Regions from separate parts of the Homo sapiens genome. Here region 1 is linked to region 2. The links come from fine-mapping of genetic effects on gene expression. Tissue or cell type: thyroid. Region 2 holds a variant in brackets; the other region holds the start of a gene. All regions are shown on one strand. Distances are from middle to middle.

Region 1 (8,105 bases), 51 kb after region 2:
AAAATAGCCTGTTAACTTGAAACCATTATATATAACATAGGATGAGGAAAAAAAACTAATTCTATTAATGGCACTAGGCACCAAGACTCAGCAAAAAAGATACAAACATAAATCCAACGTGTGAAAAAACTGTAAAATTAAGTTTAAATTTTGGAAATTTAAATGTTAAATGTTGGAAACAATGCGAATTTTGCATATTTGTGTTTTTTTTAATATATAATATTTCCTAACTCTGGCCACCATAAATCCTAGAACTAACGACTAACCTAGTAGCAAGAACACCTCTCCCACCTAGGTAAGACTGTGGTCTCCAAATACTATCTCAGACTCAAAAGAACCACGGCTCCTTGAAGACCAGAAATCTATAAATGAGCCAGGAAAATTATTTACCAGAAAGCAAGGAAATTACCAAAGCTATTGGTCATATCAAATGGAATAGGAGCCAACTTTAAGGAGCTCCCACTGGCCAAAGATGAAACAATTTGAGTATTAAAAACACAACTGCCATATGTTGAAACAGTTTAAATATAAAGTCTATAAGTTCATGATTATAGGTTTACAAAAAGGCAAAAACCCTCATGGTTACCTTTGGAGGCTGCTAGGCCACCAACTCATTACTGTGGTCTGAAAATAGAGGCAAAGAATTAAGCATTTTTCTTGCCTTTCCTGTACAAATTGTATTTCAGGGTAGTCAAACAGCTGGAAAGGGAAAGTTCTTCATAAAAGACTCTCAGTTGATAAATATTGAAGAAATAATAGAATTAGATAATCACCACGTTGCAACCTCTAATGCAATAACGGATACAGGCAATATAACCCCACAAAAGGACTTCACCACTAAGTGAAAGAGTCTTGGGGAATTTCACTATGGGTGGATGGAGCTAACTACACCTAAACCCAATATAATGTTTAATGTTAACATCATAAAAAAAGAAAACAACTCAGACACTGCTTCCCTGATAATTAATGAAATAGGAAGTATACTGCATTACCTATGAAATTATCTGTCCAACCCCCCCAACTATCCCACCAAAAAACAAAACAAAAACAAATATAAGGGTGAAATCTCATCAGGCTTCTAGAGCAGTGCTGTTCAATACAACTTTCTGCAATTATGAAAATATTTTATAACTGCACTGTTCAAAAAGCAGCCACCAGGCAATCTGTAGCTACCGAGCACTTGAAATGTGGCTAATGCAAGTTAGGAACTGAATTTTTTTTTTTTTTTTTTTTTTGAGACAGTCTCGCTCCGTCACCCAGGCTGGAGTGCAGTGGCGTGATCTCGGCTCACTGCAACCTCCACCTCCCGGGTTCAAGCGATTCTCCTTCTCCTGCCTCAGCTTCCTTAGTAGCTGAGATTACAGGCGCATGCCACCACGCCCGGCTAATTTTTCATTTTTAGTAGAGACGGGGTTTCACCATGTTGGTCAGGCTGGTCTCGAACTCCTGACCTCGTGATCCACCCACCTCAGCCTCCCAAAGTGCTGGGATTACAGGCGTGAGCCACCGCGCCCAGCCTAGGAACTGAATTTTTAATTTTATTTCACTTTAATTAACTAGCCACTGCTGGCTGGTGGCTACAATACCGGACAGTGCAATTCTACATCTAACTACTGGTTTAGAGCAGTGGTCCCCAACCTTTTTGGCACCAGGGACCTGTTTCATGGAAGACAATTTCTCAACACCGACAGGGCGGAAATAACACATTTTGTAAATATCTTTTTGTTAAAATTCATATGAAATGTTTTGGGGGAGGAATGGCCAAACCACTTTTTTTTGTTTTTTGAGACCGAGTCTTGCACTCTTGCCTGGTCTGGAGAGCAATGGTGTGATCTCGGCTCACTGCAACCTCCGCCTCCCGGATTCACGTGATTCTCCTGCCTCAGCCTCCCGAGTAGCTGGGATTACAGGCGCACACCACCACACTCGGCTAATTTTATTGCATTTTCAGTAGAGACGGGGTTTCACTATGTTGGCCACACTGGTCTCAAACTCCTGACCTCATGCCCACCTCGGCCTCCCAAAGTGCTGGGATTACAGGCGTGAGTCACCGCGCCCGGCCAACCACTTCTTCAGTAATATGAATAATACACATGGACAGGGTTAGGGGCATGGTTTCAGGATGAAACTATTCCACCTCAGATCATCAGGCATTAGTCAGATTCTTATAAGTGTGCAACCTAGATTCCTTGCATGCGCAGTTTACAATAGGGTTCGTGCCCCTAGGAGAATCTAACCTCACGGCTGATCTGACAGGAGGCAGAGCTCAGGTGGTAGGTAATGCTCACTAGCCTGTCACTCACCTCCTGCTCTGTAGCCTGGTTCCTAACAGGCCACGGACTGGTACTGCTCTGCGGCCCCGGGTTTGGGGGCCCCTGGTTTAGAGGACACAAAGGCAACAGAGATACATGTTAAAGGATACTGTGCGATGCAATCTGCTAAATTTAGAACTGTAAGGAAAAATAGGGGCTAATCCCATAGCTATAACTATGAGGGAACAAATATAGATTAAAAGATGTCAAATGTGCATCACCCAAACACAATAGGCAGATCCCTGTGGGATTTTGGTTCAAACAAGCTAATTGTAAAAAGACATTTAAGAGACAGTTGAAGAAATCGTTATCTGACTGGATATTGACATTAGAGAATTTTTATTAATTTGTGTATGTGTAATGACAGTACTGTGGCTCTGTAAAACTGAAAAACCTAGCTCCTGATGGGGGCGGGGAGGCGGACTAAAATAACATAAAGATCGGAGATTCAGTTCCTGAAACCTTCTGTCAATGTTGGCTTTAGCTGAATTTCAAGTCAAGTTGACATTTTTTGAAAGCAGGAAGCAATGACAGAGTGGACTACTGATGCTGTCACCATCTGCCAGCACAACATAAATTAGAACAGAAAGGACTAAGCAAAGGTCTTCCACCATTTTAACGAGAGGAAATGGCATCAGTACAATCAACATACACAATTTTTACAAACAACTTTTAGATTTGCATCTACATACATTTTAAAAGGCAGTGTGCCTGTTTATAAATCTCTACTCTAATTTAGTTTCAGAGCTTTTTACTACCCTGATCACTGATAATGCCACAGTCAAAAAGCAAACTCAAAATAAAAATCAATCTAAAAATGGTACTGCATGCCAAATAAGAAAATATATACACTTTATCATTAAGCTACAGCTAACAGAAATCTAATCAACGATCCTTATGATTTCCTCGTATCTAAAAAATAAATGCAAGCACTTGAGGAACTGTATAAATACAGGGCATCTACCCTACAATACTGCTTTATTAAAATAATAAATTCTTTTAATAAGTTTAACCAGACATAAGGCTCAGGGAAAACTACTCTGTGCATATCAGCGTACGGTGCTGAAACTGTAAAAGACGACCTGTCTCTGACATCATACTCATCTTTACTCTCCTGATGTCGTAAGGGACGTAAGAAAAACCACATTATAAGCCTAAATGTACTGTCTTCAAGTATCTCCATGATTAAAGTGTTCCTAAGAAACCGTCCTTATTTCTTTCTATCCCTCATTTGTGTGCATGGAGCCGTTAGTTCAGGGTTCTCCAATTTCAGTCCACGATTTATGCCACATTTCCGTACCTCTTGTACTAACATAACCGTTTAAACCAACTCACTATTTTAAAAGCTGCCAACCTTAACATGCCACACTAAATGAGCGGGTCCCCTTGTGCCGTGAATGAAGTAGTCCCAACAGCGCTAGCTAGACAGCAGCCCTGGCAGGGAGGCCGCACTGGGGTCTCTCCGCTGAAAAGGAAGGTGGGTCCGCCGGGGAAGGTGAGTACTGGGCGCAGCTCGCTCGCCCACCTGGCCACTCTCCGAAGCGCCCCCAGCCACCTGGACTCCGAGGAAGGGCTGACCACCTGGCGGGGCCGAACCCCACGCCGGGCTGCGCCACGCCAGACTCCGCCAGTGTGCAGGGCATAGCGGGCCAGGCCGAGGGACTGGGCTTCGGGGCGGACCCAAGCCGGCGGGGACGCGCCTGGTGGTTCGCAGGCCGTTGCGCAAACCGGCCGCAAGCCATGAGGCCGCGAAGCCAGAATCACCAAGGCAGCCTGGGCCGCCTCCAGACCAGGACACGGCAGCCCCTTGCCCCTCCAACTTGCGCACCGGCGGTTACAGGGTTGCCGCAAGCACGCCCCTGAGCCTTCCCGCCGTTACCTCGGGCCGGCGCTGCGCACGCGCGCCACCGCTAAGCTTACGTCCAGCCTCTGTAGTCGGCGCGTTTGTTCCGCCCACTGCCCCCACACTTTTAATAATTGAAACAATGCCTTCTCCAGACTTCCCCTGCACGCGAGCAAATGAACTCACCCACATCCGGGAATCCGAGGAAAGCGAGTGCAGACACGTGATGCGGGGGAGGGGGGGGGGGCGTGGCAGGAGCAAGCGTCTGCCGCGGTGGCCGGGTGCCGGTAAGGGTTTCCAGCGCCCCCGGCCTAGGTTTTGGAGGCGCGGGAATGCGTTCGTTGCTCAGTGTCGGACTTCCCCCTATTCCCATCGGCCGAGGCTGTCACTTTACGCTCATAACCGTTTTTCTTTACTGCACTCGTGTCGGGAGGAAAGGGACTTGCGTGGCACCCCCAGACCTCCCCGTCTCCGCTTCCACGTTTGGTACATCCTGCCTGAGGCAGGAAGCCGCAGCTGAGGGACGGCCTGTCGTACGGTGCGGATGGTGGTGGCCTGCGAGGCTCATTTCTAGCAAGGAACAAGGCTTTCCCGCTTTGATTTTATAAATATTATGTTTACAAAGCTGTAATATATAGAAATTGATAAGACGTGTCCCTGTCCCTGGAAACGCAGGCACCGCGTGTTTGGAAAGACATTCATCTGGGCTGTTTGACAGACTCCCCAGTTGGTGCCATGCTCTGTGCTTAGGGAACTGTGAGACCCCTGGAGGGGTGGGTACCGGGACCGCACTCAGCCTGGGGTTTGGAGGCGGCCTCCTATAGGAAGCGACCTGGGACCTAAGATTTTTAGACTGACTGTGGGTTCACTGGAATAAAAAGGAAGAAACAAAGAGCATTGCAGGCATCGGGACTGTCACGTGAGTAAGAAAAGTTTGTTCAGGAAACAGTGGTCGTACTGGGTGACGAGTACTTGGGACGGTGGCTTTAATACACAAGATAATCAGTGTGCCCTGGGCATTGATTATCTTGATGCTTCCCATCCTTCCAGCCCCTTATGAGGGAAGGCACCTTCGCGCCTAATCCCGGAAATGGGATGTTGACCTTCAAGAGCTGACGCCTGCGTTTATCTTGAAAGGAAGAGTGGCATTAGTGATGTGGAAAAGGGGGTTTTAACTGTCAAGGCTGGAAAATGTGACAGGGTTGGAGGTGTTTGGAGAAGGGACAGGTGAAAAAGATTGAGACCAAATGTGGAAAGATCTACTAAGGAATCATGGGTACAAAATGTACACGTAACAGTTGGAGGCAATAATACCTGAGCAATTGACCACAAAGCTGACCTAGCTTGTTTAGTAGATTAAGTTAGGACAAGAAGCAAGAGTTCAAGGATAGAAGGCCTACTGAAGCTCGAGTGATTTGAGAAAACTTTACAAAGGTGGAAAATCTACGTGGGCCTCCGAAAGTCAGGTTTGGATCAGCTGAGGAAAGTGAGAAGGGTATCCCAGGAGACAGAGCAGCAAGGACAAAGGAGTAGCAGCAGGAAAGTGGGGAGCACTTGTAAGACAGGGACTTCAAAAGTATAACCAAAACTTCGTCTTGCTTTGAGTTATCCACTGGGTAGTACTCGGTTAATTATTGAGTACTGGATTAATTAAGCCCTCACCTGGCTCACCGGTGACAGAAGTAGCAGGGCGCATTTTGCTTAACTTTTGCCGAGATCCTTGTCATGGGGGTGTAAACCCTTTCCCACACCAATCTGTGTATAATTTTTGCCAAGGTGTTAGGGATATCTTGCAGTTATCCTATGGGGGACAGCTGTGAGCCTTTTTGGTTTTTTTTGTTTTTTTTTTTCCGAGACGGAATCTTGCTCTGTCGCCCAGGCTGGAGTGCAGTGGCGCGTGGCGCTATCTCGGCTCACTGCAAGCTCCGCCTCCCAGGTTCACGCCATTCTCCTGCCTCAGCCTCCCGAGTAGCTGGGACTACAGGCGCCTGCCACCATGCTCGGCTAATTTTTTGTATTTTTAGTAGAGACGAGGTTTCACCCTGTTAGCCAGGATGGTGTTGATCTCCTGACCTCGTGATCCGCCCACCTCGGTCTCCCAAAGTGCTGGATTACAGGCGCGAGCCACCGCGCCCGGCCCTGTGAGCCATTTTTACAAAAACTTCCACCTGCCTTGGCCCAAACCTCAGCGTTCTTAGGCACAGGAGCTCATGAACATACTGAGATAACACTAAACTGGACTATGCGAAGGGACCAACTACAGACCTGACACAAATCCTCAAGGCAAGACGATGTCTGAAGTTGAGCTTGTAAAGGAAATGGCTTCCTTCCTTAAAATATCACCCAGGCTGAGCTCTGAAAAAAGCACCTCCAGATGGTGGGTTCCACCCCGCTCCACCACCCCAAAATTGCTTATTGTGTGAGTCTCCATAGTCTCAGAAACTGAGAGTACCTTTGATGCCAGTGGCTTCCGGGCTTTTTGGATTGTCACTTGGTAGCAGGGAGCACCCATAGGATGATGCCTATGATGAGTCAGGGCCCAACCTTGGAAACAGGGAAATCCAGAAGTATCCTACAAGCTAGCCAGCCTTTTGGATTAGATTATAGCAGTTTCAGAGAAAAATGGGGAATCAGCCATGGTCAAGGAGCTAAATAAGCATCGTGACCATTTGGGCCAGAAATTGAAGGGAGTGTAGCGTTAAGAATTAGAGGAAGGAACCTCCGAGGAAGGAGCTACCCCAAAGGGAAGCAGAAACTGGAGAAACTTTAGCAGTATGAGGTTCTACCACTGGTGTTCACCTAGAAGTGCTTTATTCAGATCTCAGCCTGGGTACTATTTTAGGGAAGGAAGCCGTTTCCTTTACAGTATGTTCGTGTGACTCCTGTGCCTAAGAATGCTGAGGTTTGAGCCAGGGGCTAGAAAGGAAACTTAGCTGGCCATTATGAATCAGGGACTCATCAAAGGCATCACAAACAGGAAAAGGTGAATGTTCAAGTTAGAAGAGAAGAGCTACATTGAGATGCAACATATTAATATTTGAGGGCCTCGTTTAACGTGTTGCTCTCCTGTCACACTCTATGACACTGGTCTGTCAGCTGGGCTATGCCTGTCCAGTATACACTATAAAATATGTATCAGTTGGGGTTGGAGAGAGGAACTGTGATCAAAGTAGTCACCCGGCCCATATGAGAAAATGAACCTTTTCCCAAAAGGTGGCCCCAGACTAAAAAGCCTGGAGAATCCTAATAGTGGATTATACCATCTCTTCAGTCTTCGTGTTTAAGAAATAACCTCTTTGGCTTACAGATTTGACAAGATCAAAGCTGCAGGAAAATGGACAGTGAGGTTCAGAGAGATGGAAGGATCTTGGATTTGATTGATGATGCTTGGCGAGAAGACAAGCTGCCTTATGAGGATGTCGCAATACCACTGGTAGGTTATGATTTGAGCTGAGGATGGGTTAAAGGTATTGATCTGGCAGTAACTAGTGGAGGAGGGATATCAATGGAAGATAAACTAGTGTGGCAAAGAAATCAAAGCTGTGGAATTCTCTAACTCTAGAAGCTTCTGGAGAGCATCCAGTTGTATGTTTTATTTGAAGAAAAATGTGGTTCAGGGAGCTAACATGGCCAGGTCAGTTAGGAGTCATGCCAGGACTAGAGCCCCGATTTTCTGAGCCATGTTCTGTCCACCACACGAAAACCAGAGAAACCAAATAATGAGAGTTTAATGCGCAAGATGGGGAAGAACAAGAAGCAGCAGCATATGAGCTCTGTTTCTTACTTCCCTGCCTGTGGCTCATCAGTCTTTCAGCATTTTTAGAAACTTACATTCTTGGAGCATACACCTATCTTAGGTTCCCTGGAAAATATTCAGAAGATACCTGGGTATTCTTTTGCGTTTAGGCCAGTGGCCTTCTGGAATACTCTTTTCTTCCCCATCTTTGGAA
Region 2 (8,105 bases):
TGCACGCCTGTAATCCTAGCTACTTGGGATGCTGAGGAGGAGGATCGTTTGATCTGGGAGGCGGAGGTTGCAGCGAGCCGAGATTGTGCCACTGCACTCCAGCCTGGGCAACAAGAGCGAAAATCCGTCTCAAAAAAAAAAAAAAAAAAAAAAGTTGGCTAGTATCGTTCATTTATCATTCCATATGAATTTTAGAGTCATTTTGTCCAATCCTGAAAATGTAATAGTCAGTAAATTATATAACCATTTAAAAAACAAATTTAGATTCCTATCAAATACCTTACACTAAAGTAATTTTTAGATAAAATGTATTAAAAAGAAATGATAAAGCATTAGAAGAAATTTGACTTAGGTAAGACTTTATAGTATGATATCAAAGATAGAAACGCTGAACAAAAAATTGATAGAATTAAGCAATTCTAATTAACTGTTTATAAAACAATTGTACTTCCATAAAAAATACTGGGCAAAAATTAAGGTAAATTGAGTACACATACGCAACTGTAACATAATAGCAAAGGGCTTATATTTCATACTTAAGTGTATGGAAAGCTCTTTCAGAATAGTAAAATATAAACATCCGGCCAGGTGCGATGGTTCACGCCTGTAATCCTAGCACTTTGGGAGGCCAAGGTGGGCAGATCACTTGAGGTCTGGAGTTCAAGACCAACATGGCCAACATGGTGAAACCCTGTCTCTACTGAAAATACAAAAATTAGCTGAGCGTGGTGGTGAGCACCTGTAATCCCAGCTACTCAGGAGGCTGAGGCAGGAGAACTGCTTGAAGGGAGGCAGAGGTTGCAGTCAGCCGAGATCAGGCCACTGTACTCCAGGCTGGGCAACCGAGGCTCCATCTCAAAAAAGAAAATAAATTAAGATTTAAAAAAAAAAAAAAAAAATCCTAAAACAAAGGTGAATAAAGGACACAAATAATTTATGAAAAATGAAGATGGCCATAAACAGATGAAAAAAGTCCTCAACCTCACTCATATTAAAACAATGTATATTAAAACAATGGTATCATTTTTTTTCACCTATAAGATTGGCAAAGACAAGCCTAAAAGTGGGGAAAGTCAAAAGAAATAATAGCGCTCAATGTGGGGAAAGTATGAGGAAATGGATATTCTCACATACTGCTAGAGAAAGTCTATCAATCCATCATTGGAGAAAACTTTGGCAATATATATTAAAATATTTGAAGGTACTCTGATACAGTAAATCCAATTCTAGGGCCATTTCCTAAGAAAATAAATACTCCTAAATGTTTATATAAGGATGTTAATCTAAGCACTATTTACAAAAGTGAAAAGTAAAAAACTAAATGTTCTACAATAAGGGACTGGTTACAAATGTCATTATACATTTAACGATAGGGGGGAATTCTACACAATCATTATGACTACAAATCTGTTGACATGTCATATTTAAAAAGGAAAAATTTTAAAGCTGTGACGTGCTTAGCATAGTACCTGTCACTTAGTAAGCATTCTATATATTTTAAAGTTATTGTTTCATGGAAAATTTCAAGCATACACAAATATAGAGAGAGTAAGATGATGAACCCCTATCACACAGCTTCAAAAATTATCAACACTTTGCTACTCTCAGGACTTTTTAAAGTTTGCAACTACCCCTCCTTTCCCATTCACAGTGCATATAGGTTTTTCCTATCAAAAGTACATGAATGTACTGCACACTGTATGTAAGCATACACAAAGTCAGAAGAAATTTACACCAAAATTTTATTCATCGTAAATCTCTTAACGGTAGAATTATGGGTGATTTATTTATTTCTCATTTTATCCGCATTTTCTCATTTTTCTAAAATAAGCATGTATTATGTAATTTTAATAGCTGATTAAAAGAAATGAATTCAAGCAAACATATGTCAAAGAAGGAGAAGTTGTTTCCGAATTATACTTTTAGATGTTAAAAACATATAAGAAAAAAATTATACAGAGATTTTTTTTTAATGGAGGGTAGGTTAATATCCACTTACTCAGCCTCCCAGGTTTTCTACTGTCATTGTTCAATGGTGACCCACCTTTCAACCAAATGCAATACATCAACCTTGACTGGATTCTGACTCAAACATTCAATTGTAAAAAGATAGTTTTCTGGACAACTGGAGAAATGTGAACAGACTGGATATTAAATTATATTAAGAAGTTATTATTCTATTAATGTGATACTGATATATTGTTATTTTTTAAGTCCTTACCTGTTGGGAAATAAGATGATATCTATGATTTGCTCTGTAATATTCCACCCAAAAATAAGAAGTAGGGAATGGTATAGAGTTTCAGTTTGACAAGATAAAAAAGTTCTAGAGATCTGTTGCACAACAGTGTACATATAGTTAACATTACTATACTATACATTTAAAAATGGTTAAGGTGGAACATTTTATGTGTATTTTACCATAATTAAAATAAAGATTGACAAGATGATGACAACTATTAATGCTACTTAATGGATATAGATAAGTTTATTTAGATGTTTAAAAAAATGATGATCATACAGCACTGGTATATACTGAATCACTGAAAGATTTAATTTTATTTAGTTTGCTAAGGGAGAAGGATAAATACATTTATATGTAACATTTTTATTAAACAATCAGACAGTTTTAGGTTAAACAAAACTATCAGAAGAATTAATTCAAACACCCTTAGTAGGAAAAACAAATGTTGGCTGTTGAAAGGCTTCTTACCCTAGCCCTAGCTGAATTACAGTAAGTAAAAATCCCATTTTTACTAATAATGAAGTTTTAATTACATAGAGTCAATAATCACAACAGTAATATGAAATAGGATAACAGTAATTTGAAGAGAGAATCTATAATCAATAATACTCCATGGATAAATAATTGAGAACTGTAAAAATTAAGACTCAATTTGCTTTTTTGTCAATCTGAAGGCTACAACTAGAATATAACAATATCTTGGTCAAGTGTGGTGGCTCACACCTGTAATCCCAGCACTTTAGGAGGCCAAGGTGGAAGGATTGCTGGAGCCCAGGAATTCAAGATCAGCCTGAGCAATGCAGCAAGACCTCATCTCAAGAAAACCAAAAAAAATTTTTTGTTGTTAAAAAAATATATATATACATATATATATATATATATATACACACACACACAATTTCTTATTAGGTCTCTATGGTGCTTTGGCATTCAAGTCAAAAAAACTGGTCCAGACATCTCAGGATTTCACTGGTCTGTCTGGCTGCACAGCTTGCTGTGGCCTAGAAAATAAATTTCTTCCTTGCAATTGTTGTGGACTTTTCCTACCATTTTGAATGAAGTCACTCACAGCAGAGCCACAGCCACTGTCGGTAGTTTATCAGACTGCTGATATTTCAGGGAGACGAACAAAAAGTTAATGCATTATTGAGACTTAAAATAGCAAATAAATGCAGATTATTTTTAAAAACCCAAAAAGCCAAAAAAAAAAAAAAAAAAAACCCTCCCTTCTAGCTATTTCAACTTACCCAGGCTGTTCCCTCATTCTATAAAACTAAGATAACTACCAACCTTGACAGATTATCATAATATTAAACAGAGAACACATACAAGAAGCACTGGGTCAATGTCTAGCACATAACAGATGATCACAAATTTTTTTAGTTTCCTTTATGTTCTTGATTCTAACTGAAAAAGGAATGAGCTGAATATGTTCTTACAAGACATATTCCTAAAGTAGGTGTCTGTTTTTTGGTTTTGCTTAAGCCATTACAAGAAAAGTTTCTATCAATGTTCTAAAATAAGTGTTTTTGTTACCACAAAGACACCACTTTTAGTTGGTGTGCACACCATTGCCATGTGACTCTCTCCGTATCTGTCCGCATAGGCAGACTAACTGAAGCTCCCTAGCTGAGACACTTCGGCCAAGATACCCCAGTGACCATAGGGATGGAGCAAGGCACAGACTATAGTAGAGCTGAGAGACCCAACAAGAGACAGAAAGACATGGAAAAGGAGACAGAGGGAGGAATGGGACTGTGGTAGGGAAGAAAGAGAGGGGAGGAAGAGAGGGCGACAAAGCTAGGGACCAAGATGAGGAGAGTGAACATGGATGCAAGCATAGAGTGAGCCTGAGTAAGCAAGACAATGACAGAGAGTGGGTGAGCAAGTCAGAAACAAGCAAGGAGGCAAAGCAGCAAGCGGGCACAAGGACATGAGCCTGGACAGGAGAGTGAATGCACGCATGTGTGAGGGCAGGCGGGAAGAAGGAGCTGAGTCTAGATGCTGAGGAGAGGCTTCCTAAACAAGAGAGCAGGGTTCGTGGAGAGAAGCTGAAAGAGGCTAAATGGTACTAGGACACTGCATTAAGGTAGTTCAAACT[T/C]GATCAAAACCTATCTGCTTCTCATTATTTTAAAAAGTCTTAGGCCTACCTGAATTATCTCTGATTGTTCAGCCAGAGCCTTCCTTTGTGCCTCCAGTGAAGATACCTGTTGCTGATAAATCAAGCGTTGCTTCTCCCAGTCCAGCGATTTCTGACGGAATTCCTGAGGAGGCAATTAGAGTACTTAATTTCTGAGTGCTTCTCCTCACTGTCACTACTTCCCAGACTCCCTTTAACTTTAATTTCTCCCCATGTCCCTGGGTACGCTTGCACCTTTCTCCACAGCGGGAGCCCCATTACTCACTCAGCTAACAGAGCTGGAGAGTAATACTAACTTCCTCACATACTGTGCCTCTGGATATCTGTCTTTCTAAATTTAACACCCTGATGGTGAGGAGTATGACACGCAGATGTTAAGCACTGGATTCAGATGTTTTTCACTGATTTGCTGCCACCTAAGGGTTGTTATAATTTTCTAGTGAATTTTCAGAAAACTGATGCTAAGATAACTAAAATTTTAAAGTATGATTACAGATATCCCTCGCTATCCAAATTCTTGATATCCAGACCCAGGAATTGAACAGATTAAATTTTCAGATAAGTCCCTTGGTAACCCAAATCTTACTTCCCAGTATCTAAAACTAAGGAACCAAGTAGATTCAGATAACACAATATCCTTTGATATCCAAATTTGTATTATCTCAACAGAGGAACTGCAAAAGTTTGAATAACAAAGAAAATCTGTACCAAATTTTAACAAATATTTGTAACCCAAAGCCAAACAGTTCAAAATTAATGATGGATCAATAGTAACATCAAATTGCATGATCAAGAAAGTGATTTCAATATTTATGAAAATGGGGCAAATCAAAGGGAAAGGAAACTCAATCTTTCTATCACTGTCTTCCAGGACCCTCAACTCCAGAAGTCTCAGGCTCCTTAAGATAAGTGTTGTTAACCAAATTTCTGATATTCATTCATTCATTCAATCATTCTACTATATATGCCAGGTACTGCTTTAGGAGTCAGGGATACAATACTTAACAAAACAAACAAAAACCCTAGTCCTACTCAACTGGGGGCAACAGATGACACATTTCTTGTATGGTATAGCAGATGGTAATACACGTTTTGGAGAAAACAGAGCATGAAGTCTTCACAGTTGGGGTTGTAATTTTTAAAAGGGATGGCCAGACTGAGTGAAAAACATTTAAGTAAACACCTAGGGAGATGAGGGTGAAGTTACAATATTCTGGGTGGAAAGAATAGCCTTGAAATAAGAGCATCCTGGTGTGTTTAAGGGTGAGAAAGGAAATTGGTGTGGCTGGAATAAAGTGAATGAAAGGGAAAGTAGGAGAAGACAAGGTAAGAGAGATAACTGGGAATGAGACCACGTAGGCCATTAGGATAACAGATTTTTAAGAGAAGCTGCTGGAAGGTTTTTGTATAGGAAGTGATATAATTTGACTTACATTACAGCAGAATCATTCTGGCTATCATGCTGAGAAAAGAGAAGTCTAGGATGACTCCGAGGTTTTAGGTTGAGCAAATTGAGTTGTTATCAACTAAAACATGAATCAGTGTTGGGGAGATGAGGAAGAGAAAGACAGGACCTTTAGCTTGGACATGTTAAGTTTGACACATTTTAGACATCATAGTGGAGATAGGAAACAGGCAGTTGAAAGTTATTCTGTCATGAAGAGGCGAGGTCTTGGCTAGATATATAAATTTAGGAATTGTCAGCATATACACAGTGTTAAAGCTATGAAATTCAATGGGATCAATAGGGGAGTGAGCGTAGATAGGAAAAAAAAAAAGGAAAGGAAAGGTCCAATGACATGACCCTAGGTGGTTAAGGAATAATGGAGACTGAGGAGTGATGAACAAGGAAAAAATGAGAGAAATGTGGTTTTTCTCAAGCCAAGTCAAGAAAGTGGTTAAGGAGTTGGGAGAGACCAGCTCTCCTACAAAGCTGTAGGTAGGATGAGGAAGATAAGGACCAGCCCACAGGCTTTGGGAATGTGGAAGTCACTGGTGACCTCTATGTGAACAGCTTCTGCAGTGTGAGGGGACAAAAGCCTTATTGAGTGGGTACAAGAACAATGAGACAAGAGGAACTGGAGACAAGTATAGATGACTGAAGTAATTTTTTAGTTATAAAATGGAAGAAATAAAATGGGGCAGAGGAGGAAGAGACGGGTCAAGAGAGGATATTTAAGAGGAGGGAAATTTGGATGCTGGTAAAAAATATCCAGTAGAGAAAAAAAATTAAGGGTGCAGAAAAGAGAAGGTGAACTGCTAAGGTAATGCCTTGGGTAGAAAAGGGGGAGGGCATGCGTAGTTCCTCCAGGAAGGAAGGCAGGGTACATGGGCACAGATGCAGATAGGTGGGTGGACACAAGAGTTGGAAGTCTATAAACAGAAAGGAAGATATAACCCAAAGGTGAGGATGTGGGGAAAGGTGTTGAGAGTTTGAGGAGAAAAGCAGAAGTCTGAAATACTCATTGTGGAAAGTAGGAGATGAGAGGAAATACAGTATGATTCCAGGTAGCATTAGGACCCATTTGAGGTTAGTGACCATGAATTTAAAGTGAGAACAGACAGTATGATTAGGTTTTTCTCTAGCCACGTTCAGCGATACATGACAGGTAGAGAGTGGGCAGAAAGGTGGACTTAAGCAGAACTGTGATTCTGCCAAGCAAATATGAGGAAGCAAGAGAGGAGCACAGGAGATGAAGGGGAAAGTAAAAAATGTAATGACAGAATTTAAAAGCTGGCTAAGGACCGATAAGTGAGAACACCAAGTAGATAATGGAGCAGTAAAAAGGTGGCAGAATTTAATCATTTTAAGGGATGGTTAATGATTACTGAGAGTCAAAGGACTAGAGAGAGTTAGCTGAAAAGATAGGGATTGGTAGTCTGATAATTGAATGCTTGAAAATGAGATTCTAGAGGGGTGGCATATATTGGTAATGACAAGAGCTAAGGAATGGCAGTGGGAATAAGTAGATGAGACACAAAGATAATCAAACTATCTATGGAGGAAAGAAAGCCAAGAAACTGTAAGGTCAGAGTATTATAAGCATCATCTCTCCAGATCCTAAGATCCTCAAAGTTATGATAAGAGTAATGTCAGAGAGAATTGACAGTGAGCTGGGTGCTGAAATCAATGAGCCAAGGAAATAACCCAGAGGTCAGACGATGACTATTTTGGTTGTTATGTTCATTGGCTGGCAGTATAGGCTGGTAACATGAAAATCAAAGATGGGGTTTTTGAGGTAGAAAGAAAAGAGAATAGTCAGGAAGTGGCAATGAGAAGCAAGAAGGATATAGGGTTTGGGGGGAAAAGGTATTGCCGAAAAGGGTGGAAGGGAAGCAGTAGCTGCAGTCTTCTGATTCTAAGCTCTTCAAATGTAAAAAAATATTGAGATATAAAGGAATATTAAACACAGAAATTATAATTTTAAGTAATAATAATATACTGGCATTTGTGGGTGACAGGTCACCCAGAGTACAAACTTGTAAGTGATCACACAAAGATGTTGAACAATGTTTCTCAAATCAGAATAAGCTAGGGGAGCTGGATACAATGCAGATCCCTAGGTCCTATGCCATACTGCTGGATCAGCATTTCTGAGAGCCTAAAAGCACCCTGGGAATTCTTATGTCCAGTGAAGAACTAATGGCAAGGACAGACGAAGAGAATGACAGCCTTGTGCTCTTCCTTCATCTACTCTTGGTACTATTAGCTCACCAGCT

The links. PIP is the estimated chance that this variant, and not a neighbour inherited with it, causes the effect.
Region 1: CEP63 starts here. The variant in region 2 is fine-mapped to the expression of CEP63 in thyroid (GTEx, PIP 0.99).

Annotation. Positions count from the first base shown.
Region 1 is chr3:134,482,289-134,490,393 of GRCh38, reverse strand. It overlaps CEP63 (centrosomal protein 63), which reads right to left and starts at 4,337. Exons shown (of 15, transcript NM_001353108.3): 1 at 4,192-4,337. It overlaps ANAPC13 (anaphase promoting complex subunit 13), which reads left to right and starts at 4,409. Exons shown (of 3, transcript NM_015391.4): 1 at 4,409-4,442; 2 at 7,463-7,588. The coding sequence starts at 7,490. RefSeq lists enhancers at 3,405-4,223, 4,315-4,424, 4,505-4,604, 4,635-4,754.
Region 2 is chr3:134,533,559-134,541,663 of GRCh38, reverse strand. CEP63 (centrosomal protein 63) reads right to left here. Exons shown (of 15, transcript NM_001353108.3): 6 at 4,396-4,509. Among named protein-coding and RNA genes, the nearest start is that of CEP63, 52 kb to the right of the region's middle. The variant T/C (reference allele first, on the strand shown) is at 4,347.